Regions from separate parts of the Homo sapiens genome. Here region 1 is linked to region 2. Evidence: fine-mapped expression QTL. A gene starts in region 2. The other region holds a variant in brackets. All regions are shown on one strand. Distances are between the middles of the regions.

Region 1 (12,288 bases), 77 kb before region 2:
TTATTTATCATTGTATTTTAAAACATTTTTGTTACATTGTATTAGTGAACACAATTCAAAATAATACCAACCATTTAAAATAAATTTAGGAAGCCTAGTTGGAAATGCTAAGCATCACCTAGATATGTGCAAATACAGATGCTCCTGACTACCAATGGAGTCACATCCTGATAAACCCATCCTGAGTTGAAAATACCATAGCAAGCCCATTTTAAGTTGAGGAATGTACAGAAAGTGAACCACTTTTGAGCTATTGTGAAGTGAAAAAATGCAAGTTGAACCATCTTAAGTAGGGGACTGTCTGTAGCAAACAATTATATCCTCACCAAGTCTTGTATGTGCATCTTACTATTGACATAAAGGTGTTGGATCTAGCGGGCCTAATACCTGTGTATATTTTAAACATTTTGAAAATTTTACTTAAAATGAATTTTATTTTTTACCTTCCATGGGCAGCTTAGCTAGTATGATTAAGGGAGACAGAGTCTCACTCTGTTGCCCAGGCTGGAGTGCAGTGGCGCAATCTCAGCTCACTGCAATCTCGGCCTCCCACGTTCAAGTGATTCTCCTGCCTCAGCCTCCTGAGTAGCTGGGACTACAGGTGCCTGCCATCATGCCTGGCTAATTTTTATATTTTCAGTAGAGATTGGGTTTCACCATGTTAGCTAGGCTGATCTTGAACTCCTGACCTCAGGTGATCTGCCCACCTCGGTCCCCCAAAGTGCTGGGATTACAGGCGTGAGCCACTGCCCACTGCACCTGGCCATTGTTAACTTTTTAGAGTGAGTGTTGGGGTGGGAGATGAGAGCAGAGACATGGGTGGGAGTGAGGGTGGGGGTAAGAGGGAGGTTGGACCGGTTGTGGTTGTAGCTATAGCCTGTTTCCCAACTTTTGGAAAATATGTTTTTTTTTTCATTAGGAAGAGGAGAAATAGTCTAAATAACTAGGGAACCCTACACCAATACTTTAAAAAGAATTAGAACAAATTCCTCTAATTAAAATTTCATATGCTTTCTATAATATATATATTATATATATATGCAGTGGAATATTATTCAATCATAATAAGTATTAAAACTTTTTACAAAAGTATTGATAGTACAGCATGTATGAATCTCAGAAACATTATGTTAAGTGAGAGAAGCTAGACACAAAAGGTCAGACATTGTATGATTCTATTTATATGAAATATCCAGAGTAGGTAAATCCTTAGAGCTAGAACATAGAATAGTGGTTGCCAGACACTAGGGGGAGGGAGGAATGGAGACCAACTGTTTAATGGTACCAGGTTTCCAGCTGGGGTGATGAAATGCTTCCGAAACTAGATGGATGTGCTGGTTGCACAACACTGTGAATATGCTAATAGCCACTGAATTGTTCACTTCAAAGTGTAAATTAATTTTATGTTATGTGAATTCCACCTCAATTAAAAAACAGTATATAGAGCATAAACCTATTTTTTGGAAAATATTTAGACCCACTTTTAATTAGAATAGTTTTACAAGTAACTTGATAGTTCTTAATAATAAAACACTGAAGGCTGGGTGCGGTGGCTCATGCCTGTAATCCCAGAACTGGGAGGCCAAGGCAGGCGGATCACCTGAGGTCAGGAGTTCAAGACCAGCCTGACCAACATGGAGAACCCCTGTCTCTACTAAAAATACAAAATTAGCCGGGTGTGGTGGCGCATGCCTGTAATCCCAGCTACTCAGGAGGCTGAGGCAGGAGAATCACTTGAACCTGGAAGGCGGAAGTTACGGTGAGCCGAGATCGCACCATTGCACTCCAGCCTGAGCAACAAGAGCGAAACTCCATCTCAAAATAAATAAATAAATAAATAAATAATAAAACACTGATTTTAAAATCACATGACTTTGTAGGGTATCTGTATATAAATCCTGAAATTCTCTGTCTGCTATAGATAAAGTCCTGTGTGTTTTATAGCTGGTTAATGTGATGCATAAAACAGCACTGTGAAGCTTTATGTCTAACCAGGACTAAATACATATAGGTTATGAATAGTTTTCGAATTTGTTTTAAATACAGTTCTGCTTGGTAACAAGTTAACTGTCCTCCTAACATGAAATGAATAGATTTTTAATGGAAATAAGAGAAACAGCTATCTTGATTTCTTGACCCTTTCACAATAAGCTACAATACATTATATAAGGTTTATTTTAACAATACACAGCTTAAGAGTTGTCTAGCAAGCACAACCCACAGATATTTGAATCTGATACTTTTTACACCTGCAGAAGGTTTATCTATGAAAAGCCTGCAATGATGTGCAGCAAAATGTTCACAGTGCTTATTTTTTCTGCACTTATCTGTAGTGAGTTTATTTTGTGATTATCTGTACCTTTTAACTTTTCAACAATGAGTATGTGTTACTTGAACAAAGATACACTTTTTATAATGTTGTCCATGCCTCCATATTTAACCTGCTATTCTTTCTTTGCAATCTCAGATATAGTCTTACTCTTGAACTTTATTGCCAAGTACAAGGACAATGGCTTTCTCTTTGCTTCCTGGTGACACTTTTAGGCAAATATCCTCTTTTCATCCTTCAAAAACCTGCTCTCAAGCCATGTCACTCCCAGGCATCTCAGCCAACCGTGAATGTCCTTGGGGTAAAGAAGAGCAGTATACAGATGCCAGGATACCCCACCACATTTCTGCTTTCATTGACACGCTCAACCTCAATCAACTGTATCTGCTCTTTATTCCCACACCTCATGGTGGAGCTTTCTGCCTCTTCCTGATCCAATAGGGCAATCAATCTGATGCCTTCATCTCTGGAATTCTTGTTTATGGGTTTATGAATTCTTGTGAAATTCAATATCCCTTAATCTCTAAAGGTAGAGATTTTAGGTAACTCCAGAGGGTACGTAAGGCCTTGTGAATTAAGGAAAATTGCCCAAGGTCACATCACTGGACAGTCATGTCTAGCTAGAATCCAGACTCCAATTCTAGGGAGTCTGGTTTATTTCTGTAAACCATAATGCCACAGATGTGAAGCCTAATTCAAGAACATCTCCATGGCAAACTCTTGTTTTAGTTAGAGAAATAGGAAAACATGACAAAGAATGTGTCATCGACTTCTATTTAAACGTTCAAGTTCCTCATCTTCAAGGATTTGCTGGATGACAGCTAACAAACAGTCAGATTGGATGATTCACAAAGACCGTTTCCAGTGTTTAAAAAAAATATGCTGGGGACTTTCATAGAAATTTCTACTTTTCTGAAAGCATTTTATTTCTTCATCTTTCTCTTCCTGCTCATATCCACATTCTTGTTTTCTTCCTGCTGACTGCACATAAACAGGATGTGTGGAAAGCAAGTCTAAAGAGGTAACTAAGTGAAAGGTTCACCGTTGATGTAAATCAAGAGTAGATCAGTGAAGTGGAAACCAGCAGAACTGCTTTACTGTTAGTATTCAGAGACACTAGCAAAAGAAGCTAATGTTGGTTCATTGTGAGCTAATAAAAGCAATAACCACTGGAAGATAGAGCTGAACTTTCATTTACTTACTTTACTTTTACTATGGTAATATTACTTAATAACTTTCCTTTAATGAACTCATTAAGATCATAAGCGAGTGCTTTTAATATTAAGTATGCACCTCCCCCCCACCCAAATTATACTGGTTGAATTTTCATGTTAAAATAAAGCAAAAATAAATATTAATATAAAATATTTAATCAAATATTTTAAAAATTTCAGTAGTAAAGTAAACCAACTCCAGCAGAGAAAGGGTTATCACACACACACACACACACACACACACACACACACACACACACACACCCTATCTGATGAGTTCTCTTTGCCAATAAAACAAACCAACAAACAAAACTGATCAAGAAACAAGACTATAGCTGGGCATGGTGGCTCATGCTTGTAATCCCAGCCCTTCAGGAGGCTGAGGTGGGCGGATCACCTGAGCCTGAACCCAGGAGGCCAAGGCTGCTGTGAGCTGAGATGGTGCCATTGCACCCCAGCCTGGGCGACAGAGCGAGAACAAAACAAAACAAAAGAAACAAGGCTATAGACAAGTCTGAGCTATTTTAGAAAATGGCACATGGTTGTTAATATCCAGTGAGTTCTACTTAGATTTTTCTTCTGTTTTTTCTTGTTCAACACCCAAATCTGTTAGTCAAGAGTAGTAAAGCCACTAAGTGTATTTTGTTGTTGAAGCTACAACATACAAGAAAAAAGAAAACATAGAAAGCAGCATTACTGAAACACAATTTTAGGAAACATTAATTCTCAGTATTGTGAACTAACTCCAAGAGGTATTCCGACGGACATTACCCCCATCATACTTTAGGATGTGGAGGACCTTTAATTAAAAACCCCAAGGAAAAAAATTTAATTATTTCCTTTTTGGAAAAAATCCATAGTTCTATCAGCCTCATTGTTCAAAAATTCTTTCATTTCCTCTCTTTCATGGTGAAATTCCCTCCTTTGTCTTTGGAAGTGAATTTGGTTATTACCTTTTGTAAATATTTTAGATTATCTGTAGAAAAAGGGAGAACCATGAATAGAGTCACATTCTTGAGCTATGATTTGAGATACTTATTTGCCCTTAAGAAACATTAAATTTCTTCCTTGTTTTAGTAAGAATGCTTTATTTCCTTTAATGCCCAGGGGGTATGTTGTCACATTTTCACTTTGAAGATAGAAATTTCCCACACTTTCCCATACTGAATTAATATTGACATTCATTAACAAGACTAGCAACAAGTGTCAAAATATAAATGATTACAGCCCCGTGAGCAGGAAGGTAGAAATTACTTACTGTTTTTCCTTGGGGTGGTAATTAGCTACTGTTTGCCGTCTGTAAAATCACAAGTAAAATGTGGATTATGTTTCATGAGATGAAAAGAACATTTCAAACATAATATCTTGAGTTAGTTCTCACAACACCTCTGTTAGAAAGTATGAACATCACCATTTTTACTGACAAAGTCATCCACAGAGAGGATAACCAAGTAGAAAGAGGATTCAAACTCCTCATCTTGACTCCAAACTGTAAGATTTTTCTACAGTGCCTTCTTCCTTCCCTCCCTTTCAAAGTTTTGTTTCCTCTCTTTTAACTATTCTTACTTCCAATTCAAAGGCAAAGCATTTGTATAAATACATTCGCAGACTTTTCTTATCTATAATGGGTGATTTCTAGTCCCCTCTTTTGAGTATTCCCAAAGCTGAGGGAGAAAGGATGCTTCGAATTAGCTTTTGCTGTCAGTTACACAGATTTTTCTTTCCTCATTAACCTGAAGGAATCCCATAAACATAATTTAAGAACGGTAAAAATGGTTTTTGACTTTCTTTATTTTCATGTCTCCTTTCTCCTCCTCATTCTGTATTCTGGCGTTGGAGAAGAGCTAGAGAGAACATCCTTAAAGATGCACTTTTTTTTTTTCAGTATGCCCTATTTTTTTTGATAAAATTGTGGTGAAAAACTCATAATATAAATTTATACTCTTAACCATTTTTAAGTGCACTATTACAATAGTGTTAACTGTATCCACATTATTGGGTAACAGATCTCTAGAACTTTTTCATCTTGCAAAACCGAAATCCTTTGCCCATCAAATAACAACTCCCATTTCACCCTCCCCTTAGCTCCTGGAAACCACCATTCTACTTTCTGTTTCCGTGGTTTCCCCTACTCTACATAGCTCTACATAAGTGGAATTATACAGTATTTGTTCCTCTGTGACTGGCTTATTTTACTAAGCATAATGTCTTCAAGGTTCATCGATGTTGTAGCATATAACAAAATTTTCTTCTTTTTTAAAAGGCTAAATATGTATATGACACGTTTCCTTTATCCATTCATTTATAAACGGAATTTCAGGCTACTTCCACATCTTGGCTCTTGTGAATAATGATGCATTGAATATAGGTGTACAAATACCTCTTTGCGCTCTTGCTTTATATTCTTTTGTATTTATACCCAGAAGTGGGATGCTACCTCACATGGTAATTCTGTCTTTAGTTTTTTGAGGAATCATGCTGTTTTCAAGAGCAGCTACACCATTTTACATTTCTACCAGCGGTACACAAAGACTCAAATGTCTCCTCATCCTCACCAATACTTGTTATTTTCTGGTTTGTTGATAGTGGCCATCCTAATGGGTATGAGGTGACATCTCATTGTGGTTTTGATTTGTGTTTTACTCTAATGATTAGTGGGTATGCCGTTTTAAAAAGAAATTAAAATTCTTTTCATAATTGAGTACATATTATATTCTAGGAACTGTGCTTTGTGTGTTGCATGCATGCAATAGCTTGTTACTTTTAACAAACATTCTATGGCCTAAGTAGTATTATCCTCACTTTGTACCAGAGGAAACTGAGAATCAGAGTTTAAGTGATCTTTCTAAGGACAGAGAGCTGCTAAATGGTAA[G/A]GCCAGAATTCAAAATCCGGTCTGATACCGAAGCTCATATTTCTAACTACTGAGCTATTCTCTCTTGGCCTTTTGCTTTGCCCATTAATTCCTTAATGTGTTGTGTAGGTGGCTAACACACTGTTCTTCAAAAGGAAACAGAAAGTAACATTAATTAAGTGTCTGTTTTGTGCTGGACACATTGCTAAATGCCTTCAGATGTGTATGTGTACATGTGCGAAGTGAAGGAGGAAAGTCCTTTCATTTTACACATTGAAGCATAAATCCATTTGCATGGTTACTGTTGTAAGTCAAGTAGTGCAATGAAAGGAAAATTAAGCTTAGATTTCTTACCATATAGTCTTTGTAAACTTGAAGGGCTTTTTTTACTGGTAAATACAATCCTAAGATATATGTATAAATTCCAGACAGAGAAATTCTAATTCCAATTAAGGAGTTGATTGTACCGGTGTAAAGAGGGAATCTTATCAGGAAGAGGATACACAACCAAACACACACACACACACACACACACACACACACACACACACACACAGAGGAAGAAGAGGCTTAGCTAGGGATACAAGGAAGCAAAATAAATGATTACATAAATGTTGGAGCTACCACATGGCCTATTTTCTCTGACACTGCTCTTTATTCCACTATTTTTCCAGTGTAAGATGTTTACAGCTTCTTCCGTTATGGTCACCTTATTCTACTCCACTGCATGGCCCCATCTTGTTATGTAGGTGATATATAGCAATGGGTCCAGATTTATAAGTTTAGTTTTGCTTGTGTAGCAACAAATTCAGAGCTGATTGTGACTTTTAAGATCGCCCTAAGCCCCAGGAAAATTGATCCCGTGAAAATACAACTCTCAACTGTCTTTGGGAACCTCCTAATACTGGAATCTTTAGCCCAACCTTCGCTTGATCATGAAAAGCATCAAGTGAATGGGAAACTAAAATTATTATTTATTTATTATCATTTTTTGAGATGGGGTCTCATTGTGTTACCCAGGCTGGGCTCAAACTCCTGGGCTAAAGCGATCCTCCCAGCTCAGCCTGCTGAGTGACTGAGACTATAGGTGGATGCACTGTGCCCACTAAAATTACTTTTAACTGTGCCTTCCAACTAAGAAACACATCTACTCCCACCCCCAATTATCAGGATAGAAATCTCTTGGGATCTACTACTGCAGTTATCCCAATTTGTAGCACTGATGATAATCAAAAACATCTCTAGGTAGAAAAGTATAAATATCTCAATAAACTTATTATAAAAGAGGCAATAGAAATGCCTGTTGGTATTTATGACATTCATGAAGTGCTGCCAATGATGCAGGAGCAAATGAGCTAGTTAACATTTGTAGGCAAATATGGTATCCTTTACAGCCCTCTTCCACTGAATGAAAGAGGCAGCCTGGTGAGCTTGATAATGTGTTTTGTATCACAGCCTTGAGTGACAAATCCATGAGCCAGAAACAGCAAGTCATATTATCTCAGCATTTCTAAATTTTATAGATTTACAATTGCTGAGTGAGTTAAAAAGAAACTATCAAGTATACTAAATGCTGCATGTAGATATCATATCTGGAATCATAGCCATCTGTGAAAGTTATACACAGATTTATTATTCCATTTCATTAACCCATTTCATCTGTTCTCTGTACAAGTACTTTTTCACTAATTTTGCTTTCTTTTCCTATTTTATGTGATTGATCATTATTTCCTTCTTTTCTACTCTGTTAATATTTCAACTTCTCTTAATTAAGTTTTCTAATGAAACTTTATTGAAGTCCTTTCATAAGATAAATGGCTTTGATGTTGAGCCATGAATGCAATGGAAGAAAAAAACAATGAGAGCCATAACTTCCTTAAATAACTAGCACTCTATTTTCAGTTGCTTAGTTTTAATTTTTAAGGCTTATTCACTGTGAAGAGTGTAGAGTTATCGAGTTCTGCAAAACATTTGACAACACAGCAGTAGATTCTGTCAGTTATTTCATGATGAACATGGAAATTTAAATCTAAGATATAAAGTATGTTGCAAAGAAGGTGAAATTTTTGAGTGTAAATGACTTTCAAATGAATATTTTTAATGGGGGCATTCCGATAAAATTTTTAAATGTGAATTCCAGTTAACAAAAGCATTGTTCCTATGTGATAGAATTAGTGCTATTGGTATTCTTAGTTTACAAATGAGAAAACAGAGCCTTAGTAAGGATAAGGAACATGCCCAAAGTCACATAGTTCCTAAGTAACTAAATGTGATTTGGATCAGGATTGTCATATTCCAAAAATCTGTTTTTGACCCAACATGCTATACTACTAATGTTATTTTGTATTCTCTTATTTTCTCTTTCTTCTTTTTAAGAGACGAGGTGTTGCTCTGTCACTTGGGCTGGAGCGCAGTTGAATGATTATAGCTCTCACCGCAGACTCAAAAACTCCTGGGCTCAATCAATTTTTTTTTTTTTTTGAGACGGAGTCTCTCTCTCTCACCCAGGCTGGAGTGCAGTGGCGCGATCTATCTTGGCTCACTGCAAGCTCCGCCTCCCAGGTTCACACCATTCTCCTGCTTCAGCCTCCCAAGTAGCTGGGATTACAGGCATCCTCCACTATGCCTAGATAATTTCACATCTTTAGTAGAGACAGGGTTTCACCATGTTGGCCAGGCTGGTCTCGAACTCCTGACCTCAGGTGATCTGCCCGCCTTGGCCTCCCAAAGTGCTGGGATTACAGGCGTAAGCCACTGCACCTGGCCTCAATCGCTTCTTCTGCCTCAGCCTCACAAACAGCTGGGATCCTAGGCGCAGGCTACCATGTCAGGCTCTGCTATTTTCATTTGATATGTAATCATAAATATTTTTCTATGTTTTTTGGGATATCATTTTTATAAGCCACGGAATTCTCCTCCAAGTTGATGCATAGTTTCTTTTGTTATTGTTTGTTTTTATTCTTACAAATAAGAGTATAGTTAACAAGTTAACATTGCCACACTTATCTTTTCAATTCTGTTAAATTTTATCCTTACGATAAATTCCTAGGTATGTATGTTTGATAAAGAGTAGGTTTTTAAAAAGTTGTCTTTGTTTTTCATAGGTATTTTTTTTTTCTTTTTGAGATGGAGTCCCACTCTGTCACCCAGGCTGGAATGCAGTGACGCGATCTCAGCTCACTGCAACCTCTGCCTCCCAGGTTCAAGTGATTCTCCTGCCTCAGCCTCTCGAGTAGCTGGGATTACAGGTGGCAGCACAATGCCCAGCTAATATTTGTGTTTTTTTTAGCAGAGACGGTGTTTCCCCATGTTGGCCAGTCTGGTCTCAAACTTCTGAAACCAGGTGACTCACCTGCCTCAGCCTCCCAAAGTGCTGGGATTACAGGCGTGAGCCACCATGCCTGGCCTCTTTCTCATAGGTATTTCTTTTATTTAAAAAATTAATAAGACGTGCAGGACTCGGTATGAACAAAGAAAAAAAGGAAATTTTAAAAATAAAAAACCATACAAATAATGCATAAATAAATGCTAGTTGAGAAATTCTCAAGCCATATGGTGAGGCAATTTCAGACAGTATATATTTTACCTACTTTGATTGGATTTGGTCTTTCAGGCTATATTTTCCTTAAGCACATGAATCCTATAATTGAGAGCCTGGCATAGAATCAGTAGCTAAAAGAATAATAGATAATGAGTTGAAAGATGTCTTCCAACAGAAGAGACAGCATAGCTACCATACTTTGCCAAAACAATAAATTGATTTATGGTGTTATAGAGATGCAATTTTAAATTCACTGGTATAAATTTCCAGGTTTGTATACTCACAATGTATACAGTCATGCTTACTATGTTAAGAATCTTTTTAAAGAAACTTTTATAATGTAGTTCCTCATGGATTATTATTTATATCTTCATCAATCCGCCTTTCAGTTTCCTACTCTGAGCTTACTCTTACCCAGGAAAGCTCTTTAAACTAATCTCACTTCTCGTGATCATGAACATCCCTCAGCTTACTCACTCTCAAGGTCATTATTTATTCATTTAGCCAATAGATAATTGCCAAGTCTTCTAGATGCTGAAGCTAGAGCAGTGTCTAAGAGACAAATAAGATCTCTGTTTCTGTGGAGTATTGTTGGAGGAGGCAGATAACACAAAGAAATGGGCATTTTAAGATTGTAATAAATACTATGAGAGTAAAATGGAGATGGGGCCTAAGAGTGGCTCACACCTGTAATCCCAGCACTTTGGGAGGCCGAGGTGGGTGGATCACGAGGTCAAGAGATTGAGACTATCCTGGTTAACATGGTGAAACCCATCTCTACTAAAATTACAAAAAATTAGCTGGGCGTGGTGGTGAGTGCCTGCAATCCTAGTTACTTGGGAGGCTGAGGTACGAGAATCACTTGAACCTAGGAGGTGGAGGTTGAAGTGAGCCAAGATGGTGCCATTGCACTCCAGCCTGGGTGGCAAGAGTGAAACTCCATCTCAAAAAAAAAAAAAAAAAAGGAAAAAAAAACAACAACGAAAAACAGGGAGATGAGACTGAGATTGTCTAAGGCAGGGCGTTGGGGGAAGAGGGTTACTCTCATATGGTGATAATGAAAGGCTTCTGAAAGCATCTGAGCTAAGACCTAAATGATGAGGAATGAGCATTCCAGGTGGAGGGAGAAAATCCCCTGGGGAAGCCAAAGGTTTGTCCTACAAAACAGAAAAAATGCCAGAGGGAGTAAGTGCATGTGGCAGGAGGTGAGCTTGTCGAAATTTTTTGGGAACTGATCATATTGGACAGTGTGGGTCATGCTAAGAACCCACAATAGTTATTATGCTTGCAAGGGGAGCACACTTTGGAGGTTGTTGAATAGGAGAGTAAAATGATGTGATTTACTTTTTAAAAAGATGATCTGGCTGCTGTATGTCTTGTCCAAGATCAATCTCCACCCCATCTTGTGATAACATCCAGTGTCTAGCACATAGTGAGTGCCGAATGACTGAGCACAAATTATCCATTCCATTTCCAATATCTTCTGTATAATCTCTCCTTAACTGTCCTTTCCTTCCCACTTCTCTGACCACAGGAAAAATCCTTATTCATTAAGATTCAGCTAAAGCATTACTGTTCTGGGAAGCCTTTCTGATCTGCAGAGCTGAGTGAAATACCCGCCTCTATGCAGTTTTTGGACATTGTGCTCGCTTCTGTTATAATACTTAACATAATTATCGGTTAGGTTGTCTTCCCTCCCTATAGTGCTTAGCAAGGCCTATTTCTTATTCTTACTTAATCTTCAGTGACTATGTTAGATGATCTGCACATAGTCTGTTCACCTAAACTGCCCTTAACTGTTGATGTATTTGTTAATCACTTGGTATTACCCAACTTTGAAACTGACTCTAGAGAGGGTGACCTCTCTAGAAAACCTTTCTAATCTCAAGCCAGCTCTGTACTCCCTTCACAATATTGTAGCTTCACCCTAGATAATTCTTATTTTGCATTAAAATCTTGGCTTCCAGCTGGGCACAGTGGCTCATGACTGTAATCCCAGCACTTTGGGAGGCTGAGGTGGGTGGATCACGTGAGGCCAGGAGTTTGAGACCAGCCTGGCCAACATGGCAAGACCTTGTCTCTACTAAAAATACAAAAATTAGTGGGTGTGTTGGTGCACATCTATAATCCCAACTATTCGGGAGGGTGAGGCACAAGAATCACTTGAACCTGGAACAATGAGATTGCAGTGAGATGAGATTGTGCCACTGCACTTCAGCCTGAGCAACAGAATGAGAGCAACTCATTTCATCCAAAGTGGACATAAACCTGTTTTTATTATTAGGCATAAATTATTTGGGGACAGAATTACATCTAACTTATTTCTGAAATCCTGGTCTCTACTACCGTGTC
Region 2 (12,288 bases):
GTGATGTATTCTGAAACTGAGAGGAAGTTACTCTATGACTGACTGACAGTGGCACCCACTTTCCCTTGGCCACTTACAGGGCATTGTGTTACACTATCATTTATGAGTATCTATTGATTGGATTTTGTAGATTAATACAGTTTTAATTAAGCCAACCCTCAAAAAATGGACCAAGTAGTTTAAAAAGATCTACTGAAACTACAGACTCATGATAATATTAATAATGAATACATGTATTTTGAGAATGAGGACCCCTGAATTTGTTTACTCAAGGGATTCATAATCAAAGAGAGAGTGACTGGTACCTTGGGAAAAAGGGTAAATGGCTGATACCACTGTCTATTATTAGAAAAGCTAATGTATCTGGTATTCAGAGATAATTTATTAATATTTGGCCTGCTAATTCAGAACTTTATGAACTGGTATTAATAACATTAAATTTGAATTTGAAATTGCTATTAATATAAAATAAAATATCACTTAACAGTGGATTTTACAGTATGCAGAGTTTATCTCTTCCATTTCTACCCATGTAATATGCATGTAAATACTATAATTTGGTATAAATGTTAGGAATGGTAACCCAGGCAAAATAATCTAGAGTACAGGGCCTGAATCCACAGTGTTTTAATCAACACAAAAATGTCACAAAAGGTAAAATTTTATCCCTGTGATAGTTTTTCATTATTCTTTGATTCATCTATATACCCCTAAATAATCTGACCAAATATAAAATCAAAGTAAAATATAGTTTGAATAGTAAAAATGGCAATTATGGCCACTAAAACTGTGTAATACTTACCCTATGTAGGAGTTCATTTAATGATCCATTTGGCATGTATTCAGTAACTATTCCCAAAAATTCAGGCTCATTGCAAATTCCCAAAATTGGAAGAATGTAACTAAATCTAGCTTTGTGTAAAATTTCAGCTTCTCTTAAGACATCCTTTCTTTCACTAAGAAAAAAAAATGCATAATTATTCAAGTAATAAAAAAATATACAATTATCATGCCTATAAGACTAAGCCTGGATTTTTTTTCATTAATTAGCTATGTGACCTCATGTAAATTATGCAACTTCTCTGCACCTTAGTTTCATCATATTTAAAATAGAAATAATACCTACCCTATATATTCCACAGGTCTGTTTAGAGACCAAACTAACTTCTATAAGCCATTGACAGGTAAAAGTGCTAAACACAGGTTTATTATTATTGTACTTATCCCAGGAATGGGAAAGAACATAGTATTAAATTTATAAAGTCTATCTATGTTAGAACAATTGGTGCTTGAACTAATTACATGATTAAGTTTACATTGTATTCAAATGAGCATGTTTTATTAGAATATTATATTAAATTTTATGGTTGCATACCATATAAACATTTTCCAAATATCCTGAATATTAAAACCTTTAAATGTTATAGATTCAATAGCTGCATAAAAGTCAGTAATATTTATAAATTATATACCAGAACTCAGGAAAAGATCACTGAGAACAGGTAAATGCTCAATAATATTAATAGACTGCTGGGGTAACTGGCTCCCAGGTTCATTTGTTTATTCATATGTAAAACAAATATATATTTAACTATTTTTTTTTCTATTTTTCTTTGTCACCCTGGCTAGAGTGCAGTGGTGTGATCACAGCTCACTATAGCCTCAAACTCCTGGATTCAAGCCATCCTCCCACCTTAGCCTCCCCAGCAGCCAGCTAGCTCCACAGGCATGCAACCGTGCCTATTTTTTTTTTGTAGAGACAAGGTCTCACTATGTTATTCAGGGTGGCCTCAAACTCCTGGGCTCAATTGTATCAGACGTCCAATAGGTAGGTATCAAATGATTTCAAGGAAATTAAAGGGAAGGCTAAAGTTGGGAAATTGTGAATTGTTTAATGCACTCCTTTTATGTAATATAAAAGGAGTGAAGGTGAATAAGACAGGTTAGGGACATATCTCAGTCTTAAAGCCTGGTTAGGGTGGTGAAACTTCACTTAGCAGTCACTAAGTGATTGACGGTTTGTTTGCTTTTTTTAACATACAGAATACACACTGGAAACTTTTTTTTTTTTTAACAGACCAGATCTTGCTATGTCGCCCAGACTGGCCCTCCCTACTCTGCCTCTTGAGTAGCTGGGACTACAGGGGTGTGCCAATGTACCTGGTGTGACTGAAAGTTTTTGAGTTGGGGAATGACAGTAGAATACAATTTTAAGATGATCAATTTGGCAACAAGATGTAGGATTAGTAGAAAGTGGTAGAGTTTGAAAGTCAGGTGTTAGGAGATTTTAATACCAGTTAATACATGAACCTAAAACTACAAAGGTAGCAGTGGAAATGGAAAGAAAAACACTAAGTGAATAGAATGCCCGCGTTGTAGTGACTGACTGTAGGGGGTTAAAAAAAAAATGAAAAGGAATTGGAGATGTCATTATTTTTTTACCCTGAGTGACTGGATGTTGGCTGCAGCAATGACAGAAATAGAAATGTTTCCAGGAGAAGCCTATTAGGTAAGTAATGATGATAAGTTAGTTCTTACACCTCCCAAGCTCTGAATGAATGGCTGTTGAAATATGAATAGCAACAGACATTCTAGACCAGACTAAGAGGACTACTTTTAAAAACAAACAAAAAAACAAAGCAAAAGAATCTTCGTCATTTATTTTTTGAATAGGTCATATATTTATATGTCTTAAAATTCAAGAGTAACAAGAAGGCATAAAGTGAAAAGCTTCTCTCATTCTCTGTCCTTCAATCACTTAATACTCCAACTGCTAGGAAACCAGTATCAGTTTGTGAGACCCATTTTAATTAAATGTTTATTCCCTAGATGGAAATAGTTCCATATCTGCCCCAAGAGATTTAGGCCAACAATAGAGGATGACCCTGAAGATTCCTGGATACTAAGAACAATAGAGAGTGCATGCTGCAGAAGTCTCAGTGACACTTCACACACTCTTTCCTCCTCCCATTAAGAGGCATTCTTCTTTCCACTGTGACCCTATTACATGTCAGTCACTTTATATGCACTAGCATCTTAAGATCACCCTCTAAACATAGTTTCATTAGCTCCACTTTATAAATGAGGGCACTAAGGCTCAGAAAAATTAATACTTTTCTAATGGTCACACTAATAAGTGGCAGGGTTGGCGTCAGATTTGAATTGCAATCATGGGACATTAAAGCCTGCATTCTTTCTACCCTATTGCTTGATCAAAGAATATAGTAGGAAAGTTCTTGAAGGTAGATTTTTGGCAAGATTGAGTGAGTGGGAAATTTTTTTTAAAGCCAAAAGATTTTAAAAATTGATTTTTACATTTTGAAAATAAAGGTGTAAAGTACAGCTTCCATAGTCACATCACCAAAATTAACTCAAAAATTTAATCAGAAAAGTTATGTCATCTACAGGGTATTTGAACAACCAATTGGACTCATTACTCATAAGGGGTGGGAAGATTGTTGGGGAAGGTCCACTCATCGGATAGAAGTCAGGTTATGGAGACTGATTCACCAGTCATTAAAATAAGAGCATGTAACATTGCATAAACTTATTTTTTTTCAGGTCATCCCAAAGAACAATGCAAACATTGTTCTCCATAGTCCGAGAAACACATGTATTTATTATTCGTATTTTATAAGTGAGGAAAGAGACACCAGTGAGTCAACTGCATAGCCTCATCTAATGCTCAGACTACATAAATACTGCAATGATAAGATCTTAAGTAACAAATTGGAGAAAAGAATGTGATGCAGTAAATGCCAGAGTGTTTCGCTGGTCTTATGGCTTCCTCGAAGACAGAATTAATTTCCTACCCAATTCAGTGAAGAATTTTAGACTATGAAAATTGTTCATGAGTATGGGAAGGAAACTCCCTCTTCACTTCTTGGTCCCCAAACTGCACAAAGCTTAGATAAATCAAAATCCTGAGAAGCAGCACCCAAAGTGGGAGGATCAATTGGCTTTTCAATACCTAATGGGTCCATCAGTGCTACATTTCCATATAGTGTTTGCATAACTGGTTCTAACATATATCCACCCTCTCTAACCAACCACCACCCTTAAAAGTTGACTACAGACACATATACACACTTGTCCAGCACTTGCTCCACAGAATATAAGGCCTGGAGTAAACAGACACCACACCTTGTATATCACTGAATCTGGATTATGATAGACAAGAAGTGGAAACAAGCTCTAGAAGTGTCCCAAATCTCCTGTGCCATTTAGGCCATCGAAGCCTGACAGTGAGAGACAATGAAGAAAAGCCACAGGCAGGTGAAAATCCAGTAACTTTGGCAGGGCGGAAGCTGAGGAATTTATCTGATGCTGGATACTCACAGCTTCTGGCCAATCAGGCATCGGGGATGACGTATTTTCACATTAGATATAGGAGGAGGAGAAGAGAATGTTGTAATCATGGATGTTAACTCACTAAGAACTGAATGCTGGGCCTAGTTAAATCCCTGTAGGAAGTAAAATACACAAGACTAGTGACCCATTGACTAATACACAGTCACAGGTCTATGGCACGCGGTTGTAATGTTCTTCTGAAAACAGAAACTAATGCTAACCTTCCCTTAAAACCTGTACAAACCAATAAGTGAAAGCCATTTACAATTTCTGGCCATTTAACAGTCTTTTGGTTCAATTTATTGTGGCAAAAATAGCACACATTTCCTCTACTTAATCTTCCCTGTGAGAGAAACTGAGACTGGGAGAAACTGAACTGCTAGTATTGAGTTTGATATAAAACGTTCCTGACAACACATAATAAACCAAAACCAAAATAAAAACAATAAGAAGCAAAACATCCTTGATTCTAAAGCAGTGCGGTCCAATAAACATATAATGTGAACACCACCACATACAATTTAAAATTTTCTCGTGGCCACATAAAGTAAAAAGAAACACATAAAATGAATTTTAATCTTATATTTAACCCAAGATATCAAAAATGTTATTTCAGCATATAATCAATAAACAAATAATAAAATATTATAAGTTCTTTTTTTAATAAATACTAAGCATTCGAACTCTGGTATTTTACACTTAGGTCACACTTCAATTCGGACGGGCACATTTCAAGTGCTCAATAGCCACCTGTGGCTAAGAGCTACCTACTGGACAGTGCAGCCCTACAGCCCAATTTCAAAAATAAGGAAAAAACAAAGCAAACAAAACCCACACCCACTATATATAAACACACATCAATTTCAGTAAACCCAGCGTTTAGAGTTAGGCAGTGATTGCTGATTTTTGGAGTACGGAGCCAGAACGCCTAGGAGTAAGAGGGAAGGAGAGAAAGGGTAATGGAGAGATGTGTGGAGGAATGCAACTGCTGCATCTCCAGAGAAGCCTGTGCTCCCTACGGTGCCAGAGCTTGAAGGGTGGGTGCTCCCTATCTCCCAAGCTTGAAGGGCTCCCTAGAGGTGACGAGGTGAGGCCGGCCCCAAGCGGTCACTGCCATTTGGGCTCTAGAGCCCGCTTGTCAGGGGGCTTGAGGGGATGCAGGAGTTGAGGGCTCTTCCAGGGAACCCCAGTGACTGCCTACCTGTCGAGCAGCGGAGTGTGGATGTGCAGGTGCTTCACGGCCACCTGGACGCGCCAGTCTGCGTGGCGGGCGGACGACACAGTGCCAGAGGCGCCGCGGCTCAGGTAGCGCAGGTCGGCGAGTTTGTGGTAGGGAATGGTGGGCAGGGCGCTGCAGATGGCCTCCCCGTTCATGGTCCCGGGCGCTCAGGCCGGTTCCGGGTGTGCCCCCTGCTGCGGCGGCTCCCAAGGCTCCCACGCCGCGCTCAGGCGCCCAGATACGCCCCTGCACGAGCGAGGCCGGCAAGACCCTTTTTGCCCCGCAACACTAGGTCACGAGGGCGCCCATTCCCCGGATGGCCCACGCCAGCCGCTGCTTCTCCGAACCAGAGCTGACTTCTTTTCTAGAGACTGGTGCCAACGCCGTAGCGCCGCGAAAGAGCTTCCTCTCTCGCAGCCCCGGCCCTCCCCCCGGCGCGCGCAGCGACCAGCTCCGGCCGCCCGAGCTCCTCCCTCCCCAAACTTCGCAGGTTACGTCAGCGGCGGACGGCAAGGCGGGGAGAGGGGCAGCCCGCTCGCGGCCCTCCCGCCTGGCTCTCGCCTCGGCCTGCGGCCGGGATCCTCCGCCCGGGTCGCGCAGCGGAGGCCGAGGGCTGGGACGGGCGGCTGGGAAGTGGGAAAGGGAGCTCCTTTTGTCTTCTCTTCCCATCCCCCAGGTTTGGGAAAGTTTTCCTTTTGGGAAAGCCCCTCTCTTCAGCCTGCTGGCGGGTGTCGGATTGGTTAGCGACCACCGGCCCCCGCCTCCCCCAACAGGATTCTCCTTTGGGCCACAGGTCTTCCGGAAGTTGCCAAACCCCGGTAGCGGCAGCGTCCGGCTGGGGGCTTTATTAGGGGGCACCGGGGTCTGCTTTCCGACTCCCTTCCGACTCCGCGCCTGCGCAGGAAGCGATTTGGGGAGTGTTGTGAATTCCGAGGGCTCCACACTTAAGAGGTTGTACACTCACCTGTCTACCTGGACTCCAATTTCCATATTTCCAGCCACTTGAGGACTGAGAGGTGGATGATAAACCCTGTCATAGTGGAGCAAGTTCAGGTGTTTAACCGCTGTTATGGGGGATCTGCCTTTTCTCCCTCTTCTTTCTTACTTCCATAAGTATGTATGTGCAGAGATTGAAAAATAACCTTGAGAGAGTCCATCCATCTAACTCCAGGTAAGACTGCAAATATTTCTTTCTTATAAATCTGGGAGGAATGCAGTCAGTGTTTCATGCCAACCAAAAAAGACTGCAAACGTTTTTCCATCCTTCTGCCTTGAATACCTTTCTACTTAGATGACTATTTTGTAAGACGTGAGTGCAAATGTTATATACAATACCAACTCCATACTAGATGTTTAATTAATTCTAGGGATTCAGTAATAAGGAATGACTCGAACAGATTTCTGCCTACAGACAGCTAATGCTTCTTGTATTTTTGCATTACCTGAAATGAAAGTAGCAATGTTAGATTTTACAGTAGTGGGAGGTTGTAAACAATAGTATGTTAAACATTTTTGATCATTTATAATAAAATGTTCAGCACTAAACATATGGTCTGATACTCTGTGCTTTATTGCTTAATAAGCTTTTTTTTTTCTTTTCGAGAGGGAGTCGTGCTCTGTCACCCAGGCTGGAGTGTAGTGGCGCGATCTCTGCTCTGCTCATTGCAACCTCTGCCTCCCTGGTTCAAGCAATTCTTCTGCCTCAGCCTCCCAAGTAGCTTGGATTACAGGCGCCCGCCACCACACCCAGCTAATTTTTGTATTTTTAGTAGAGACGGGGTTTCACCGTGTTGGCCAAGCTGGTCTCGAACTCCTGACCTCGTGATCCGCCCACCTTGTCCTCCCAAAGTGCTGGGATTACAGGCGTGAGCCACCGCGCCCGGCCAATAAGCTTTTTTCTTAAAAAGTACTCAGAAGACTTTTCTATCCATTCATTCTGTTAACGCGCGTCAGTGTGAAGAGACCACCAAACAGGCTTTGGGTGAGCAATAAAGCTTTTAATCATGTGGGTGTAGGCCGACTTAGTTCGAAAAAGGAGTCAGCAAAGGGAGATAGGGGTGAGGCAGTCTTTATAGGATTTGGGTAGGTAGTGGAAAATTACAGTTAAAGGGGGTTTTTCTCTTGCGGGCAGGGGTGGGGGTCACAAGGTGCTCAGTGGGGAGCTCCTGAGACTCATTGTCCAGGAGAAGGAGTGTCACAAGGTCCATTGATCAGTTAGGGAAGGGCAGGAACAAATCGCAATCGTGGAATGTCATCAGTTAAGGTAGGAACTGGCTATTTTCACTTTTGTGGTTCTTCAGTGGCTTCAGGCCATCTGGATGTATACGTGCAGGTCACAGGGTATATGATGGCTTAGCTTGGGCTCAGAGGCCTGACATGTTTATCCAGTCAATTAATTAAAAACCTGAGTCCTAGAAAAAGAGAACAAAAAATAAACAGGGAAGAAATGATCAAAATAATAATTTAAAAATTTTTGCTAGGGCAGGAGTCTTCATATTTAAAGGGCCCACCAAGTAAAAAGACCTACATTAAGGCACATACATCATTAAAAGGGTGAGAACACTAACACTAAAGGGAAGATTCTAAACGTTTTCAGAGGGCGGAAACAAAAATTAAAGAGATGGGAATTAGAATGGCATTGAATTTCTTAACAATGTTACTAAGTCATTGTTATCCTGAAATATAATGAAGTGAAATTTTTCCAATATTCTGAAGGACAGTAACTTCCAACTTAGAATTCTATAGTCAAACTTTCCGTCAAATGTAAGGGCAGAATAAAAACATTTTCACATATACAAGAATGAAATACTTTCTTTCCATGTCATTTTTTTTTTTTAAAGAAAGCTCCTAGAGAATGTGTTCAGCAAAACATGGGAGTAGCCCAAGAAAAAGAAAGACATGAGATCCAGAAAACCGGACCAGGAAATTAAGAAGGGAAACTCCAGGATGAGAGAAATATGGCAGAATTGGAGAGCAACCCATTTTCACTGAACAGGGAGATGGCAGACTTCAAGAGAAAACAGTAGTTACAGTAATTGAAATGATAGATTATCTAATTTTGAGTATTTGAGAAATTATATTGATAGATGTTTGATAGATCTAATGAACTATGGGATAAAATTGGAGAATGAATTGTAAAAAAAAATACAAGTAAAAAAAGGAGACAATTGTTAATTCCATGAAAATTACATCAGAAGGGAGACAACATTTCTCTAAACTGTTTTGTGGTGGTGAAAAATGTAGAACTTTTCAGAACTTTTGAAATGCTAATATGCATCTCTAAGAAGGAGAGAGCATGAAGCATAGAACTTCATGGAATTTATTTGTATTGTTAATTACATTACTTTTAAATTTACTTTTTAAAACCATATCACATGGTTTAAAATTTAAAACAATAAGGACTCATAATGCAATAGAAAAATTGAGAAGAGGACTTAGATACCTTGAAAAAGAGGTGAAAAGGTTCTCAACATCATTAATTATCAGGGAATCACAAATTTTATTCACATTGCAACACTACTATCCAAACAGTAGAATGAATAAAATTAAAAAGACAGAATATACCAAGTGTGAGTGAGGATTTGGAGCAACAGGAGCTCTTGTACACTGCTCATGGGAGTGTTGATTGGTTCAATCAATTTTGTAAATTGTATGTCAGTATCTATTAAAATTGTAGATATGCAGATCCTATGACCCAGTAATTCCTTGCTTCGGTATGTGGACATGTGTATGCATCTACTAGAATGTTCATAGCAGTGGTGTTTATAATAGCCTCAAACTGGAAATTACCCAGATATCCATAAATAGTAGAATAGATAAATACATTTTGGCACATTTATGCAATATAATACTAAATGGGAATGAAATTAAACAGTGTACAAATATAATGTTGGATGAAAAAAGCCAGATACAGAAGAGTACATATTGCATGAGTCCATTTGTATAAAGTACAAAAATAAATAAAACTAACTTATGCTTATAGAAATCTTCTCTCTAGTAGGGGAGAGGCATTGATTAGAAGGGAATCATGAGGTATTTAGGATGATGGTAATGTTCTATTTTTTGATTCAGGACCTAGGCTGTAGGTGCCAGTTGCATGGGTGTGTTCAGTTTATGAAAATTCTTGGAGATTACACTCACATTCACTTTTCTGAATATAGTACTTCAATAAAAAGTTAATTGGTTTAAATATAAAATAAACATGCACATATATATAGGCATATATTGTATATGCATATATAAATATAGATTTATATATTATATTACTTCTGTTTATATTTATATATTTAAAATATATAAATATATTTAAAATATATATATTTATTTTAAATATATATTTTAAATATATATATTTATTTTAAATATATATTTTAAATATATAAATATATATATTTTAAATATATAAATATATATTTTAAATATATATAAATATGTATATATAAATATATATTTATATATTAATATATATATATACTATGTGTGCATGTTTACATTTAATTATATATAAATTATATATAAAATATATATATAAAATATCTGTCCCTTTTATGTAATTATTATAACACTATATACTCGTCTACTTTGCTTACTTTTCACTTAATGTATCTTGGATATCTTTCCATATGAATGCATAAAAAGCTCTCTTATCTTTTTTATTTTCTAGACGCTGATGGATATACCATAATTTATCCCCCATTGATAGGCATTTACTTTGTTTTCACACATATGCTATTACAGATAATGCTGCAATAGTTAATTTTTGCTTATGTTATTTCATACATATATATCTACGTATTCCAGAAGCCAAATTGCAGGATCAGAGTATGTTGGTTTGTAACTTTGGTTGATGTCATTGAATTGTTCTTCATTGAAGTTATACTAATTTTCTTTTCCTGTAGATGATGAAAATAGCTATTTCTCCACACACTTACTTTCCTTCCTTTTAAAGATGGATAGTACGTTGTTGGTCTGCTGATTCCTGAAGTGTTCGGTGCTTCTAAATTCATGTAAATGCTAAGATTCTTTTTATCACAAGCCTTCTAAATATTTTTTAATCACCACCTTAAACCTTTAGCTTTCATGATAGGTTTTACCAGTATACAGTTTTAAAAACATATATTATTAGTCATATATGGGAATTAATTAAATTATATATTTCTTCATATACATATAGTTCAATTCCCACAATTAATTGGCTAAAGATAGAAAGTTTAAGGGATATCGATGCTGAAATACATCAACTAAACAAGAAAGAAAATATTAGAATATTTACGCAAAGTAGGCTTAAAAAACAAGAATCACATCTATATGTTGATTTCATCTGTTCAAAATTCTATAAAATTACATCAATATTTGTTTTTCCGTGAGATAAGGGTTATTTATACCTGTATGTATTATTTTAGGAAATTGAACCTTGAAATTGCATATCTCTTCAATTAGACACGAGACAAGAAATGGAAAATAAACTACCTAAAAAACTACAAATTTAAGAATTTCAAACATTTCATATTGTAAACTTTTCTAATTTTTGGTCTAAAAGCACCTAATAAGTTTTAAAGACACAAATCCTGGGGAAGTGTCTATAATTGCATAATAATAACTGTACTGCATGGGAAAACTAATGTTTAGGGTACATTTGATACCTTCACCCCCAAAACTTTTAATACATGATGTATCTGATGATAGAGTCTATTATTATGAGGAGATAGAAAAATATACTTTTTGCAGCTAACTAGTAAAATCATGTTTCTCATTTAGCCATCTGTATTCAATCCTAAAATTGAACATGTCATATTTAAATTGATTGGCGAAATGATGTTTTTTTCTTTTGAATTATTAGCAAACATTACATGGAAATCAACCTTTTAATATGATATTTACTAATAACACTTTTCTCAAATATTTGTCAATTTAAAGTTACATTTGAATCTTACCATTTGGAAAAAAGGTGAAATTTTTAAAAAAAATTCTAAGAAGGTGAAGTTAATATATATTTCTTTGAAAGTGCTGAAAAGTAAAAACAAAACAAAACAGTTGGAGACACTGAGCTAGTACAATCTCCCACCTAATTCAAGAATATCTAATGAAGAGTTGACCAGTTCTTTTGAACATTCCCTGGCAAAAGGGAAATCACTACATTTTGAGCAAGCCCTTTCCATTGGTTACAGATTTCTTTTGTTAAAATTCTCTAACATTCTAAATTTTAGGAGGTTCTTCTGGTCTCAATATTACTGGCTTTTGTTGTATTAAGTCTAACTCTCCTACCTAGACAATTGAAACAAAGGGTCTACCCCTTTTAAGGCGGTATGAGGGATTTAAAAGATAAATACTTGGAAGATAGATATGTCATCTTTAGTCTTCTTTTACTTCAACTTGGTTTTTAGTCTCTGTGGTTGTCCTATATTCATCAATATCCCCGCCTCCAAATAGATTAGAAAATTTTGTGTGAAATCTGACAGATGAGAGGGATTGTGGCTATACCTGTCTTTGATCTGAATCTATTCACGCAATGGAAGACGGCCCTGCTAAACTATTCATTTAGGTTGGGCCTAAATTCTTTTCTTTTCTTTTCTTTTCTCTTTTCTTTTCTTTTCTTTCTTTCTTTCTTTTTTTTTCTTTCTTTCTTGTCTTTCCTTCTCTCTCTCTTTCTCTCTCTTTTTCTCTTTCTTTTCTTTTTTCTTTCTTTCTTTCTTTTCTCCGTTTCCTTCTCCTCCTTTTTT

What was found.
Region 1: its variant is fine-mapped to the expression of RIPK2 in whole blood (INTERVAL, PIP above 0.99).

The regions. Positions count from the first base shown.
Region 1 is chr8:89,828,095-89,840,382 of GRCh38, reverse strand. No RefSeq gene overlaps it. Among named protein-coding and RNA genes, the nearest start is that of OSGIN2, 68 kb to the left of the region's middle. RefSeq lists an enhancer at 3,136-3,235. The variant G/A (reference allele first, on the strand shown) is at 6,417.
Region 2 is chr8:89,751,497-89,763,784 of GRCh38, reverse strand. It overlaps RIPK2 (receptor interacting serine/threonine kinase 2), which reads right to left and starts at 5,969. Exons shown (of 11, transcript NM_003821.6): 1 at 5,552-5,969; 2 at 803-956. The coding sequence starts at 5,724. It overlaps PARAIL (palmitic acid regulated anti-inflammatory lncRNA), which reads left to right and starts at 6,074. Exons shown (of 5, transcript NR_125822.1): 1 at 6,074-6,740. RefSeq lists enhancers at 4,126-4,215, 5,494-5,563 and a silencer at 6,104-6,223.